Homo sapiens: one gene and its partner. The protein of the gene in region 1 interacts with the protein of each later gene in a biochemical or structural test. Each region holds a gene or a part of one and is shown on either strand. Other genes may lie near its edges. The genes, in order: RAB24 and RBSN.

What was found.
Region 2: the proteins of RAB24 (region 1) and RBSN form a complex in vitro, tested with the Homo sapiens proteins (one study listed by BioGRID).

What each region holds. Positions count from the first base shown.
Region 1 is NC_000005.10:177,300,720-177,308,848, forward strand, and holds RAB24 (ras-related protein Rab-24), read right to left. Parts: upstream 3,001-8,129; 5' UTR 2,570-3,000; coding exon 2,453-2,569; intron 2,359-2,452; coding exon 2,290-2,358; intron 2,112-2,289; coding exon 2,033-2,111; intron 1,926-2,032; coding exon 1,858-1,925; intron 1,778-1,857; coding exon 1,678-1,777; exon of another isoform or gene 1,460-1,677; coding exon 1,409-1,459; intron 1,269-1,408; coding exon 1,206-1,268; intron 1,089-1,205; coding exon 1,024-1,088; 3' UTR 479-1,023; downstream 1-478. Other genes in the region: PRELID1 (PRELI domain-containing protein 1, mitochondrial isoform 1 precursor), read left to right, coding at 3,267-3,358, 3,906-4,131, 5,152-5,265, 5,379-5,457, 5,703-5,851; MXD3 (max dimerization protein 3), read right to left, coding at 6,869-6,984, 7,062-7,245.
Region 2 is NC_000003.12:15,088,919-15,096,182, reverse strand, and holds part of RBSN (rabenosyn-5), read left to right. Parts: 5' UTR 1-62; coding exon 63-210; exon of another isoform or gene 211-512; intron 513-4,689; exon of another isoform or gene 4,690-4,844; intron 4,845-5,643; coding exon 5,644-5,784; exon of another isoform or gene 5,785-6,023; coding exon of another isoform or gene 6,024-6,048; intron 6,049-7,264. UniProt on the Homo sapiens protein: Rab4/Rab5 effector protein acting in early endocytic membrane fusion and membrane trafficking of recycling endosomes. Required for endosome fusion either homotypically or with clathrin coated vesicles.

The DNA of each region.
Region 1 (8,129 bases):
AAGGGCTGCAATAAATTTCCTTCTGGTTGAGCAGCAAGTGTCAGCCCTGTTTACAGTTAACACCTGATTCCTCAGAAATATCTGGATCTTCTTTGGGGAAAACTTGGGAGTTTGCTTCCCTTTGTGACCTAGTCCTGAACTTCCTGCCCTTTCAGCAAAAAGTGCTTGGGAAGATTGGGAAAAACATTTAGTACTAGAGTTACTCTTCACTTTCTTCACAATCCTTGGGCTGCATAGTAGTCACCTTATTTTACAGATGAGAAACTCAAGATGAGGATTTAAGTCCCTTTTCTAAATTAGCAGCTGAATTGGAACCAAATCTGGATCCATTAGACCTTTCTGGCTTACAGAACTTAGGACTTTCCTACCATTAAACCACATTGTAGGATGTCACTGGGAAGCTCAGGACCTGAGTCACAGGTCTGACATAGGGGCCCAAACATGACAGATGCAGTAGAGCTAGTCAGACCAACCTGTCTCAGGTAGGAATGCTTGACCCTTTTATTTCGAAGCAACTCATGCACTCTTTTCAGCACTCAGAAGGAACTGTGAGCTTTTATACTACTACAGCCCCAGTATCTCAGCGGTAACCATGGGGAAAAAAGTCTTGTTTTCCAAAGGAAAATGAGAGTTGGGAGGAGCCTTAATATAAGCAGTGAGGCCAGCCGGGTGGCCCCAGGAAGAACTAGGTGTCTTGACACCTAATCCACACAGCAGGGAAAGGGGCTGGGTGTGATGCACAGTGCACTGATTTTATTTACAGATCAAAAGCCACTTAAATAATCTGCAGACACAAGTGCTGTCCAGGGCAGAAGCCTGGGGTCCAAATCAGCCTTATCCCTCCTCATGCCCACAGTCAGCCCAATGCTGTCTCCGTTCCATGGGCCAGCACAGGCAGGCGCCACTCTGCTGACATGAGGACCTGGGGTAGCTCAGACATTTGACTACCCAAGCCCAGAAAGGAGCTGGGTCCAGCCCTTACGGGGAATTCCTTTAATTCCCCCAGGCCAGGTGAGTGCTGACTCAGTGATGACAACAGCTGTAGAAGTAGGGGTTTGGCTTCTGGCCCAGATCCACGCCCTTGTCCTCTGTCAAAAAGAGAGGTGGCAGCTCAGCACCATTCTGTTGGGATCAGGTAACTCAGGAAAGGGGCTAGATGCTGTGGGCCTAGAGTAAGTCTCCATAAAGGCTGGGGAAGCACACACCTGTCATCACCTGGAAGGCAGCCACACTGACGTAATCCTCTGCCACTTTCTGGAAGAGCTCGTCTGGCAGGAAAAATGATGATCAGCGAGGGCCCAATGCCAGTAGCCCTGGGATCTCCCAGTGACCCAGCCCTCTGTGCCCTATTCAGCTTCCTCTGGTGCCCCTGCATGTTCCTGCTGTGAGGCTCCAGCACAGCACTCACCCACACTCTGGCCTGTCTTGCTGGATGTTTCAAAGAGCTGAGCTTTGATATCTGTAAAGAGAAGTGACTAAAGCCTCATACCTGAGAATTAGATAAACAGACAAAAGGGAGGGCTAGCAGTTCAGGGAGTCTCCTGGACCCCACAGTTCAAGGAGGCCAGGAAGACCTCCTAGAGCACCTTGCCCTGGCAGCCAAGGCAGTCCCTATTTTCTTTGATCCACCCAGACAGCCACACACCCCCACCCCCCAAAGGGCTGAGGAGCAGCTACTGTCTGCATAGTCCTGGACGTCGTGGAAGTCCACACGTCGACGCCTCCGGTCTTCTTCCAGCAGGTCACTCTTGGTGCCACATAAGTAGATTTGGCAGCCCTGAGGCAGAAGACAAGGGTCACCTCCACAGGCCAACAAAACCCCAGCCCCTAGTGTTCTAGTGAGGTCTGTTCACCTACCTCCTCTAGGCTGCGCAGTTCCTTCACCCAGAACTTTGCTCGCTCAAAGCTGCTGCTGTCTGTGAGGTCTTGGTGTGCGGCATGCAGGAGACAACCAAGTGGTCAAGGGCTGTTCTCTGGCTAGCCTGGCACCCATCTTTTCTTGTGAGACAGCCCAAACCCCCCCCCCCCTTACCATAGCAGACGATGGCAGCCTTGGCACCCCGATAGTAGATTCTACTCATGGCCTCATAGCGCTCAGAGCCTGCTGTGTCCTAAAGAGTAAGGCCTGAGTCAAACTTAAGGCCACGTTCTCCAGACCCCGCTATTTTCCAGATAAGGAAACGGGTCTATGAGAAATGGGTCTGTGAGGCCACAAATCAACCAGTAATAGGCAGGACCTACACCTCCTCAGGAATGAGTCTCCCAAGAATAGATGGCCGGGGGACTTACCCAAATACCTAATGTCACAGTCCGGTCTCCGACCGACATCACCTTGGCCACGAAGGCGGCCCCGATGGTCTGCAACGAGAGGGAAGAGATCGGGGCCATAGGTGCAGATTACCGGCCCCCCACTCCCCCGCCCACCGTGCCTGGCCCCTCCGGATGCACTCACGTTCTGATAAGGCCCCACCAGAAAGCGGTCGTGCACGTAGCGCTCCACCAGGCTAGTCTTGCCCACGTACTCCTTGCCCAGCATCACCACCTTGACGTCCACGCGCTGCCCGCTCATGCTCCCGGGGCCGCTTCAGCCACGTCAGGGTCCTGAGCGGGGACGGGAGGCAAACCCCGATCTCCGCTCGGCCCAGGCAGCGCCCAAGCCTCAGACCCCGACCCCAAACGGCGCCAACCTACGACTCCAGACAGCGCGTCGGGCTCGAGCTCTGGCCGTGGCCTTGCACTTCGGCAGCGCCCCGTGTGCCCCCGCTGTTCGGCCCCGGGCGCCGATTATCCTTCGAAGACCCCAAGCCTCGGGGCGGCCTGGGAGCGCGCGGGACAGCGTCCTCAACAGCGCAGCACGCCGCCGTGCAGCTCGCTACTCCGTCATTCGCTCGCCTGCCCGGCTTAAGCTCCGTTCTGGCTGGGAATCCCAACCGAACCTGGGGTCTCCCGCAACCCGGCTCCTACCCGCAGCGCCGCGACTCCCGCGGGAGGGGGCTAGAGGGCGAGGGGGCGGGGCCGCAAGGTCACGTGGCGCGGGCGCCGGAAGCGGTGGCTACTGTGTGGCTGCGCCGGAAGTGGCGCGCGGCCGGACAACTCATGGCGGCGGCGGCGGCGGCGGCAGCTGCTTGGGCGCGGTGCGGTGGTGACTGAGCTACGAGCCTGGCGGCGGGTGTGCGCCGAGCCCCGGCCCGGCCCGGCCCTCGCGTGCCTCCCAGGCTCCGCACCCCTGATGCTGCGCGGGTGCTGAGCCCGCTTCGGCCGGGACGATGGTGAAGTATTTCCTGGGCCAGAGCGTGCTCCGGAGTTCCTGGGACCAAGTGTTCGCCGCCTTCTGGCAGCGGTACCCGAATCCCTATAGGTACGTGGTATTTGGAAGAGCAAAACCGCGCCATCTCGCTATCTGGAGATCGAATTATGGGTAACCCCCAAGTACTGGGACCAGGAAGGACTCGATATCGAATCCTAGGTAGACCTTATCGGGGAAGCGGCCAGGCCAGGCCTGCAAGGTCCTGAAGGGAGGTTGGGCCTGGGTGGTGGTTTACTTGAGACCTTAGTGTAAGATTCTTTTCTCAGTGTGGTGAGACAAGAAGAGGCGGCAGTATGGGAGTTGGGAGGGATCTTGGAGTTGGAAATCCTATTTCTCTGCCCGTGGCGCTTTCCTGGGGTGCAATAAATCATGAGGTCCATTCCTGCTAGAAGGCAGGAATCCAGGTCAGTCAGATGGCGGGAGTGGGAATTTGCCCTGGGATGGGCCCTTAACTCTGGTTTGAACCATAGCACATACCACCCTGCAAGGTTACGGGAAGGCGTGGCCTCTCTAGGCCCGGAGCCTCCAAATGGGAATCCCCTCGGGCAGTCTCTTAGGGGCAAGCTTCTGAGGGTCACCTTCACCCTGACACCTGCAGCAAACATGTCTTGACGGAAGACATAGTACACCGGGAGGTGACCCCTGACCAGAAACTGCTGTCCCGGCGACTCCTGACCAAGACCAACAGGATGCCACGCTGGGCCGAGCGACTATTTCCTGCCAATGTTGCTCACTCGGTGTACGTCCTGGAGGACTCTATTGTGGACCCACAGAATCAGACCATGACTACCTTCACCTGGAACATCAACCACGCCCGGCTGATGGTGAGACACCTCCTGTTGTGATTCTGCACCTCCCCCTCTCCCCTCCCCCCGAGATAGAGAGCTCCTCAGATACATGTGGCTAGAGAGCCATAAGGCAGCTTTTGTGGCCGGAGGCAGGTCTGGGTTACTGAGGGTTGACAGCTGTAGAGTATGACCTCAGGTTTTCTTCTTTTCAGCTGGCCATCCTCTCTGGACCTGTCCTTTGACTCATTCATACAGTGGGGGAGGGGTACCTATCTTACGGAGTTGTCCTAAGTTCTAAATGCAAAGCGCTCCCATCTGGCATCTATGGCACAGATATATGTTGGACTCACAGGAGTGATGCTGAGTGGCGGAGGCAGTGCTTTTCTTTTTTTTTTTTCTGTTTTTTGTTTTTTTCTGGTGACAAGAGTCTCACCCAGGTTGGAGTGTAGTGACATGATCTCACCTCACTGCCACTGCCACCTCCTGGGTTTAAGCAATTCTCGTGCCTCAGCCTTCTGAAGAGGTGGATTTCTAAGCACACACCACCACGCCTGGCTAATTTTTGTATTTTTAGTACAGACAAGGTTTTACCATGTTGGCCAGGCTGGTCTCGAACTCCTAACCTCAAGTGATCCGCCCGCCTCGGCCTCCCAAAGTGCTAAGATTACAGGCGTGAGCCACCGCGCCGGGCAAATGTTTTTATTTGGACTGTCAGGAAGCTCCAGAGCTGCAGCTGGTGGAAGGCGGCTAAAACACTGCATGCGTCTAGATGCACAAAACAAAATCCAGGAGCAGGATGGGCTGGAAGGCCCTTTGTTGATCTCAAGAGAGAGACCTTTTGCCTTCTAGTTTAAGAGTCAGAAGAGAGGTTTTCGAGAGCAAAACGACCTTATTTATGGCTTCTTGTTCTGTCAGTGCCACTTGGAGGTGCAGTCAGGGGAAGGAATGGATTTTCATTGTATTGCTTCGCCTCATGAAAAGTGACAGGGAGTCAGATTTATGTGCAAGTTGGCAAAATGAAAGACTGTTCCACGATTGTGGTTGGCCTCTGCATAGGTGGTGGAGGAACGATGTGTTTACTGTGTGAACTCTGACAACAGTGGCTGGACTGAAATCCGCCGGGAAGCCTGGGTCTCCTCTAGCTTATTTGGTGTCTCCAGAGCTGTCCAGGTGAGCAGTGTTGTTGGGGCTGCTGGGGCTCTGGGACCCAGTGCTTTCGGTGTTGGGGCTGGGCTGGGGTCAGTGGGCAACTCAGTATCCTTCCCATTCTCATCTCATGCCAGGAATTTGGTCTTGCCCGATTCAAAAGCAACGTGACCAAGACTATGAAGGGTTTTGAATATATCTTGGCTAAGCTGCAAGGTGAGTTTCTGGGTATGTGGATATTCCTCATAGGGAGAGGCTCATTCAGCCTAGCGGGCGTGGAGTCTGGGTTAGTCATTGCCCTGCTCTGAGCTGGGACTCCTTGTCTGTACTGGGGGTGGGAGGAGGGTGAATACCACCTTTTTAGTGGAGCCTGGCCCAGAGGAGATTGGTGTCATGGGGGAGGGAAATTAGGTTGGTCTTTCAGGCATCTTCTAAAGGCAGCCACCTGCCGTTCGCGACAGGCGAGGCCCCTTCCAAAACACTTGTTGAGACAGCCAAGGAAGCCAAGGAGAAGGCAAAGGAGACGGCACTGGCAGCTACAGAGAAGGCCAAGGACCTCGCCAGCAAGGCGGCCACCAAGAAGCAGCAGCAGCAGCAACAGTTTGTGTAGCCAGTCTACCACCACCACAGCACCCCAGACAGCTAGGCTTAGCCTCTCTGCCCTCCCTTCATTGTACTTTATCATTAAAAATCAACTTCCAGCCCTGTCTGCTGTCTACGTGGTGGGTTGTGGGGATGCAGTTTGGCATCTGCAGTACACCAAGCACATGATTCATGTCTGAGCCAGGTCTGCTTATTCTCCCATTGGGCAGCTGAGGACCGAGGCACAGAGGTGCGGTGACTTGCCCGGGGCTCCAGGTAGCCTGCAGGTTAACTGGCGGTAAGTGCTAGACTGTAAGCCCGACAAGGGCAGGGCTTTTGGTTTTGTTCTCTGATGTGTCTCAGTATCTAGCACATAATAGACACTCAATAAATACTTGTTGAATTCAGTTGGCCCCAGCTCTGGAGTCGGAAGGCTCTGGTTTGAATCTTGGCTTCACTGTTTTTGGACCTCAGGCGAGTCACGTCACTCAGCCTCATTTCTACCATCCGTGAAGTGGAGACAGAACAGCCTCAAGTTGTGAGAATTAAGTGCACTGCCTGGCACGGCCAACAGTGTCAGTGATGGGAACTGATATTATTTCCTCTTCCAGTGGGTCTGTGGTTGGGAGTTCCCCCGTTTTCATTAGGCAAGACTATGGACGGGAAGTTATGAAAGAGGCTTTTAATGAAAATACTGTACAGTTTATGTGAGGCAAAGGCAGGGGGCCTTGTCCAGGAAGGGAAGAGGCCCAAGAGGCTTCCTGTCCCCTTGGGGGCAGCAGAGCCAAATGCTTGGGCTCGGGCCCAAGCTGCCTGCCCTGCAGGGGTCCAGGGAGGTCCTGATGAGTCCTGCCCCTTCCCTTCCAGAGGGCCTGCCTGGCAGCCAGCAGCAGGGTGTTTGGGGAGCACCTGTTCCCACACAAGGGTCCTTTTAGTCCATTCCAACAGGTGACTCCGAGCAGCCCTGAAGGCTTGGGGAGGGCTCCTGCCTGGCAAGTGGGCCTGGCACGAGTAGAGGGCAGAGGCCCGCCCTGGGTGAGGAACATCATAGCCAGGCGCCGCCGCCGTGCGAGTAGCTGTGCTCCTGGCCGGCGACGAAGCCCCGCAGCAGCTCGGCCTCACCCCCAAACACCAGGCTCTCCACATCCACCTCCAGCTCCTCTGCGCGGGGAGGGGTCCGGTCAGAAGACCTGGCTCGCCCCGAGGGCCACACAACCCCTCAGCCTCGGGGCACTCACCTTGGTCTGAGTCTGAGCGCTCAGAGGAGAGGCCTGAGGAGTCCAGACTGTCCGCCCGCAGCCGCTCCCGCTCGGCCGCCCCTGCCAGCCCCCGGAGCTGCTCCAGCTGCCGCTGCAGGCTCTGCTGCTTGCTGCGCAGCCTCTCCTTGAGCTGTCGGGCCCGCTGCTCCTGATCCTCCAGCTTCTGCGGATCCCAAAGGAGCAAGGGGCTGGGGTCAGCGGCGTGGGGGCTTGGGCTGCACCCCAGCACCACTCAGTACCGGGCCACGGCCACAGGGCCAATGCCCACTCCGGGCAGGTGGCGACTAAATCCAGGCCCCAGAGGGTTGCACCCACATCCTCCAGAAAGCCAGCCCCTTTCCGGCCATGCACACGTCCTGTCAGGGTGCTGCCTAGATTGGGGGTGGGGGGGCACCACAATCTCAAAGGCATTTGGGGCCTAGTCAAGGATAAAGGACTGGAGTGCTGTGGCGTCCAGGGGTGGGAACTGGGAGCAGGGTGCACTGCTGCGTGTACACTCTGGCTCAGGAGCCAGGCATGTGCTGTCATGGGAAACAGGCCCGGTGTTACCAGGTCTCCCCGTTTCTTTTGTTTTTTGTTTTTTTTTTTTGAAACAGAGTCTCGCTCTGTCGCCCAGGCTGGAGTGCAGTGGCACAATCTCGGCTCACCACAACCTCCACCTCTTAAGTTCAAGCAATTCCCTAGTCTCGGCCTCACAAGTAGCTGGGACTACAGGGGCCCGCCACCATGCCCAGCTAATTTTTGTATTTTTAGTGGAGACGGGGTTTCACCATATTGGTCAGGCTGGTCTCAAACTCCTGACCTCAGGTAATCCGCCTGCCTCAGCCTCCTAAAGTGCTGAGATTATAGGTGTGAGCCACCGCGCCCGGCCCCCCATTTCTTTACGAGAAGCTAGCTGGAAAGTCAGATTTTTCATGTCAAATGTCTTTTGAGGGATTGACAGCTAATTTAAATTTTTAGAAAACTAGAGAACAAACAAAGGCTACCAGTCTGTAGCTCCTGGTCACGATCCCTACAAGAGCGAGAGCGTGAAGGCGTTAGCACCCT
Region 2 (7,264 bases), on another chromosome or scaffold:
AGGAATCAAGCTGACTCTTGGCATGAGATTCCTGCCTTCCTAGGGTTGAGAGCGGCACTGCCATGGCTTCTCTGGACGACCCAGGGGAAGTGAGGGAGGGCTTCCTCTGCCCTCTGTGCCTGAAGGATCTGCAGTCTTTCTATCAGCTTCACTCACATTACGAGGAAGAACACTCAGGGGAAGACCGTGATGTCAAAGGGCAAATTAAAAGTAAGAGGCGAGGACCTTGCCTATCCCCTGCTGTCGTTGAGAGCTTTAACTCACGGGATAGTTCTCATCAGCTTTGGTGTTGCCACAGGAATATGATAATAGTAGTAGCAAACAGATGACTAGTGTTTGTCATGTGCCAGGCGTTTTCAGAGTTTCCCTGTTTATTAATTTCATTTAATCCTCACAATAACTGTGTGGCTGTAAGCCACATTTCGAACCAGACACAGAGAGATTAGATAACTTGTCTGAAGCCACTCAGAGAAACAATCTGACTTTGAGTCTAGTAAATGTAATTGCTGTGATCTGGCTTGACTGTTCTTTAACCACCAGCCTAACAGGGTTTGGAGAGGAATTTCTTTCCTTTGCTATGATGATGGAGGCACATTATGCACCCATTTTACCTGTCACAAATTTAAGACTTCCCACCATCCTTCCTTCCCCAATTGGTATCTTGCCCTCTATAGCCCAGAAAAAGGAAGGTCATAGTCGAAGAACAAAACAACCTAAAAACCTTGGTTTTTGAGCTTCCAAGAGCTCAGGTTTGAGAGAGTTGTGGAAAGAATTTTTCAAAGGTACTTTTCACTATACATATGTTTATTGTATTTCCTGGACATCAAATTCTAACCTCCAGATAAGATGCTGCTCCTCTGGGCGGGCACAGTGGCTCACGCCTCTATTCGCAGCACTTTGGGAGGCCAGAGTGGGCAGATCACTTGAGCTCAGGAGTTCAAGACCAGCCTGGGCAACATGGCGAAACCCCGTCTCACAAAAAAAATTAAAAAAAAAAACAACTAGCCGGGCGTGATGGTGCACGCCTGTAGTCCCAGCTACTCAGGAGACTGAGGTAGGAGGATCACTTGAGCCCAGGGAGGTCAAGGCTGTAGTGAGCGATGATCATGCCACTGCACTCGCACCTGGGCAACAGAGAGAGAGACACACACACACACAAACACACACACGCCAAAGATGCTGCTCCTCTGGAACTTATTTTGTAGTTATTCAGCTAACTTGCTTCTCACAGCTGGCAGCATTTCTGAAGGCCTTGAGATTAAAGAGTTCTGGATGTTGTATTCAAAGTCTTTATTGGGAGAGAAAGAAAGGAATGATCATGTATTTCTAAGTGGACTTCAGCTTTCAGACAGGTGAATCATATGCACTTTGTAATCAGATATTTGTCCCTAGAGTCTCACTCTATCTCACTTTTCTGTTCAGTAAAAAAGAGTTTCTAAAAGCATAAACAGTTATAACTTCTATCCAAAAACAACAAAGGCAAACATTTCTGAAATCCTGAGGGCTTTGGTGGATGAGGTGGCTTCTGGCTGTAGAGGCTATAGAACAGAGCCAAAACTATTAGGAGGGAAAAAAATGCTGTGCTTTATAGTTTTTAGAGTTTCTTTCACAGACATTATTGTTTCATCTGACTCTCCTAACAACTCTGCAAGAAGGTGATTGGTCTCATTTTACAGATAGTAAGTGAAGTGAGGCTCAAGAGATGTTGAGTTACTTATCCACGGTCACACAGGAATTGGCAGAGCTAGGCCTGGAACGTAGGTCTTCTGTCATCTGTAAATCCAGTGCTGCCCTTTGCACGTGACATCACTGAGGGTGAGAGGCCCCGTGTTCCAATCACAACATGCATTGCAGCTTCCTGGGGGAAATGAAGCAAAAACAAAACTAAAAAACCTGATTATGTAAGTTTCCTTTGGACAACCGAAGAGCTTCCATCATTTTCAACTAGCTTCCAGTCTTGGTGTCAGCTGAACTAAGTCCTATACAATGCCATTGCTCAACCTGGTGATACCAGTGGGTAGAGAGGTTAGAGAATGTTCCCGGATTCCTACAGTGACCCTTTTTTAAGAGGAAAAATGTTTAAGGTTATTTAGAGAATACAGATATGGGAATCTATTTAAGGAATACTAAATAGAATAGAAATTTTGTGCCTTGTGAAAGAAACTTGAAAGGATCCTTGGCTGGGCACAGTGGCTCACATCTGTAATCCCAGCACTTTGGGAGGCCATGGCGGGAGGATCGCTTCAGCTTAGGAGTTTGATACCAGCCTGGGCAACATAGATCCTGTCCAAAAATAAAAAAAAATTTTTTTTAATTAGCTGGGCATGATGACATGCATTTGTAGTCCTAGCCACTTGGAAGGCTGAGGCAGAAGGATCCCTTGAGCCCGGAAGGTTGAAGCTGCAGTGAGCCATGATTATGCCACTGCACTCCAGCCTGGGCAGCAGAGTGAAACTCTGACTCAAAAACAAAAAAACAAAATAAAGTTACTTCAGCCGGGTGCGGTGGCTCATGCCTGTAATTCTAGTACTTTGGGAGGCCAAGGCAGGAGGATTGCTTGAGCCCAGGAGACCAGACTGGGCAACATAGCGAGACCATTTCTACAAAAAAATCATTTAAAAAAATTAGCCAGTCATAGTGGCACGCACTCGTAGTCCCAATTACCCAGGAGGCTGAGGTGGGAGGATCGCTTCAGCTCAGGAGATCAAGGCTGTTACATTCTAGCCTGAGCAACAGAGTGAAACTGTCTCAAAAAAAAGAAAGAAAAGATCCTCTTGGTTTTTCCCTTTATTTCCCACCCTGCCTTACCCCCGACATCTCTACCTCTAGTACTATTAATGATCATGTCTTTAGTTAGAAAGGAATTCTTGATTATGTTGCAGTTTTCTGCATTTCAGAATCAGGAAAGTAAAGTTTTAAGGATTGACATGAAAGGTTTTTTGAAAAGCCCTTTAGAAAGCAGATTACGTCTCCATTTGGTCTTTTGATTCTTAGAAATGTTATGACATGGTTAGTTTTGGGCAAGTGAAAAGTTAAAGCCAAAAGAGTGAACCTTAGTATTAGGTTTTGGGGGCAGTTCAAAAAAGAAAAGATAGATTAGTCATTAGTAAAAAGTTAGTGGGTTCGGGGCCCAGTCCTGGTTCAGCTCCAGTCTAGCCCATTTTCAGTAAGTAGAAGAAAAGATAGCTGAAAATTGACTGTGGCTTCTTGCTTTGTTAGTGTTTTTTAAAATATATGGGATTATTTTTAATTGGCCTTCTCTGGAAGGGCTATGTCCTTTCTGGGAACATTGCCAGGCAGTTTTTCTATCTCCTAAAAGTGGTTAAATGGTATAGATTGCCTGTTTAACCTGATACTTTAGTCTTGTTTGCAAAAATGAATTGTTACTTGCTAACTCACATTCCTGTTTGCTAGACCCTTTGTTCACATCAGGCAGTTTTCTCTCCCCTGTTACTAGAAAAGACTGCTTTAGGCCAGGGACAGTGGCTCATGCCTGCAATCCCAGCACTTTGGGAGGCCGAGGTGGGCAGATCATCTGAGGCCAGGAGTTTAAGACCAGCCTGGCCAATGTGGTGAAACCCCATCTCTACTAAAAAAAATACAAAAATTAGCTGGGTGTGTTGGCACGTGCCTGTAATTTCAGCTACTCGGGAGGCTGAGGCAGGAGCATCCCTTGAACCCCTGGAAGGCAGAGGTTGCAGTGAGCTGAGATTGCTGCCATTGCATTCCAGCTTGGGCAACAAGAGTGAAACTCTGTCTCAAAAAAAAACAAACAAACAAACAAAAAAAACCCACTTTAGTGCATTTTAAAGGATGTCCTTTTGTTTTAGTATTTTTCCAGTTTGGACAAAGCTGTCCCACAGTGACCAATAATCAGGAAGTTTGCTTATTGGCTTGACCGTCTTAAAAAAAAAAAAAGACAAGTGTATTCTTATCAATCTCACCCTCAGCCTGCGAACCTGGGCAACATCTCTACAAAAAAATGTTTTATAAAATAATTTACCTAGTCATGGTGGCGCACACCTATAGTCCCAGCTACTTGAGAGACTGAGGCGAGAGGATCGCTTGAGCCCAAGAGATCAAGGCTGCAGTGAGCTATGATCAGCCACTGCACTCCAGCCTGGGTGACAGAGCAAGACCCTGTCTCTAAAAAATAAATAATTAAAAAGTAAAAGTAATGATACCATTTTATATTCAGTCTGATATTTTCTACTAGATTCTGGTGGAAGAAAGGGATAGCAGTCATCCAAGATTAAAGAACATTCATGAGAGAGCGTCTTAGAACTGAGAATTCTTCCCGCCCCACACCAGCTGATTGTTCAGTTTAACAGGTGGTTCTCTGCACCAGCACAGGTGGCAGAACCCATGTTCTGCAGAGGCATAGTTTGTGAATCAGGACTAGCGGGGGAGAGCTGGAGCTCTCATTTCAGGCACATGAGGTGTCTACTTCCAGCCCTGCTGTTACCTGTAAGCTCTGTGATCTTGGGTGAAGCAAGTTCTTCCCTGTCTTTGATGTCGTTTCCTCATTTGTAAGTAGGGCTATCACCTGCCTTATAACATTGTAAGCATGAACTGGCATAATGTATTTGCAAGCACTTTGCGTTGTACCTGGTACATACGATGGCTAAATACAGGAAATGTTCATTTTCTCTTCTTACCCAATCTGGTTCTGTTTGTGTTATGTTGTAGATGTTATATCTGTTTCTTGAAGCTTTTTGCAAGTATTCTCACATGCATTCAATAAGTGCGTGGGCAGTAGTGGGGAAGCAAGAACTCTGTGTCCAGTTAAGCCTATGGGGAACACCAGTCCACGGATGGAGGTTTAGCTGAATCCCATCCTGGAGGTAAATGAGAAGAATTTACTCATGAGTTTCTGGGGTAAATGAATTAGTACTATAGAACTTGTTTTTTAAAAAACATTATTTTAACTGAGGTATAGTTTTAATTTTTTTTTTTTTTTTTTTTTTTTTTTGAGACAGGGTCTCATTCTGGTTGTCCAGGCTGGAGTACAGTGGCACAATCTCAGCTCACTGCAGCCTCGACCTCCTGGGCTCAGGTGATTCTCCCACCTCAGCCTCCCAAGTAGCTGGGACTACAGGTGCATGCCACAACACCCAGCTAGTTTTTTGTATTTTTAGTAGAGATGGGGTTTTGTCATGTTGCCCAGGCTGGCTTGAATTCCTGGACTCAAGCAATTTGCCTCCCTTGTGGGATTACAGGTGTGAGCCACTGCGCCTGGCCCAATTCAAAAAGTTTTCAAAAATGTATATACCCACTTCACCACCACTCCAATTAAGATAAAGAAGAAAACACTTCCATCACCCTGTTTTCCTCATCAAATTTGATTTTAGCACTTTTATTTAATTGTGCTCTTAAATTTGGCAATGAGCAGTAATTTAGCCCATATGTTGGCCGCCTAAACCAATTTAATGCTAATATTGATTAACTAGTGTATTGCTCTGTGGTATTTGTAATATAGTGTTTGTGTGCTTGCTCCTGCATTTTACTTGAGATCTAAATATTTCTGGTGCATTTTTAAACAAACGATAATTATTTCGTCAACTCTTGTTTTTTGAGATTTCTTTTGACTGTTTACTGGGTGTTCTTCATGGCTCATTTGTATTATTTGTTCCATTTTTCAAGGTCTTGTCCAGAAGGCTAAAAAAGCAAAGGACAGGTTGTTGAAACGAGAAGGGGATGATCGAGCAGAGTCAGGGACCCAAGGATATGAGTCTTTCAGCTATGGAGGGGTTGATCCTTACATGTGGGAACCCCAGGAGCTTGGTAAGAAAATTCATTTATTCATTCAGCAAGTGGTTATTGAGCATCTGCTATGTTCTAGGTAAAGTTTTAAGAGTTGGCTGAGGAGGCATCAGTAAACCATAATGGTCTAAGCTTCTCATGGACCTTATGCCCTTGCTGGGGGAAGAAAATGGAAGAGAACCAGCTGAGCATCCACTTTGTGTTAGGCACTACATTAAGTGCCTTATACCCATGGTCTTGTTAGATCTTCACTGCACCTCATGAGAACCTGCCCAGGGACAAACAGTGAGTAAACTGCAGAAGTAGGGTATGAATCCATATCTCTCTGACGTCAGCCCAGGCATAGAGTCCATTAATGATTCTTTCCTCTCACATAGGACATTACCTGCCCAGTGACAGGCACTGGTTTATGCAGCTTACTTTTTTGAATAATTATAGTAACATCTACCTACTTTCATGTTTTTGGGATGATAAAAATTCTCTAACATTTATTATGATGATTGTACAACTCTGAAAATCCTAAGCTGGGCGCGGTGGCTCACACCTGTAATCCCAGCACTTTGGGAGGCCGAGGCGGGCAGATCACGAGGTCAGGAGATCCAGACCACGGTGAAACCCCGTCTCTACTAAAAATACAAAAAATTAGCCGGGCGTGGTGGCGGGCGCCTGTAGTCCCAGCTGCTCAGGAGGCTGAGGCAGGAGAATGGCGTGAACCCAGGAAGCAGAGCTTGCAGTGAGCTGAGATCGTGCCACTGCACTCCAGCCTGGGTGACAGAGTGAGACTCTGTCTCAAGAAAAAAAAAAAAGAAAAGAAAATCCTAAAAACCACTGAATTTGCTTTAAATGGTGTATGTATGTGAATTATATCTCAATAAAGCTATTTATCATGCCAGTCACACTTAGTTGAACTATCTAATCTTACATATCTGTTTTTTTTTTTTGTTTTTTTTTTTTTTTTTTTTTGGAGATGGAGTCTCACTGTGTCACCCAGGCTGGAGTCCAGGGCTCCGTCATGGCTCACTGCATTCCAGGCTCAAGTGATCTCTCACTTCAGCCTCCTCAGTAGCTAAGACTACTGGTGCACACCATCCATCACACCTGGCTAATTTTTGTATTTTTTGTAGAAACAGGGTCCTATGTTGGCCAGGCTGGTCTTGAACTCCTGGGCTCAAGTGATCCTCCCATCTCAGCCTCCCAGAGTGCCAGGATTACAGGTGTGAGCCACTACGCCTGCCTACATATCCTTTAACCGTCTAATGATAACAGTCATTAATATAATAAAATATTTTCTGTCCATGAAATGGGTAATTATTCCTTTATTTATTTATCATTCCCTTGTGATTTATTCAATTTTCATGTTTATGATCTTGTTCACCTTTCACAAAAGCCTTGTGGAGTAGTGGTCCTTTTTCCCATTTATGGATGAGGAAACTGGAGCTCCAAGAAGGAAAGCGAAATTTACCCAGGCTCATCTACTGTATCTTTTTAGTGCTGTTATAGA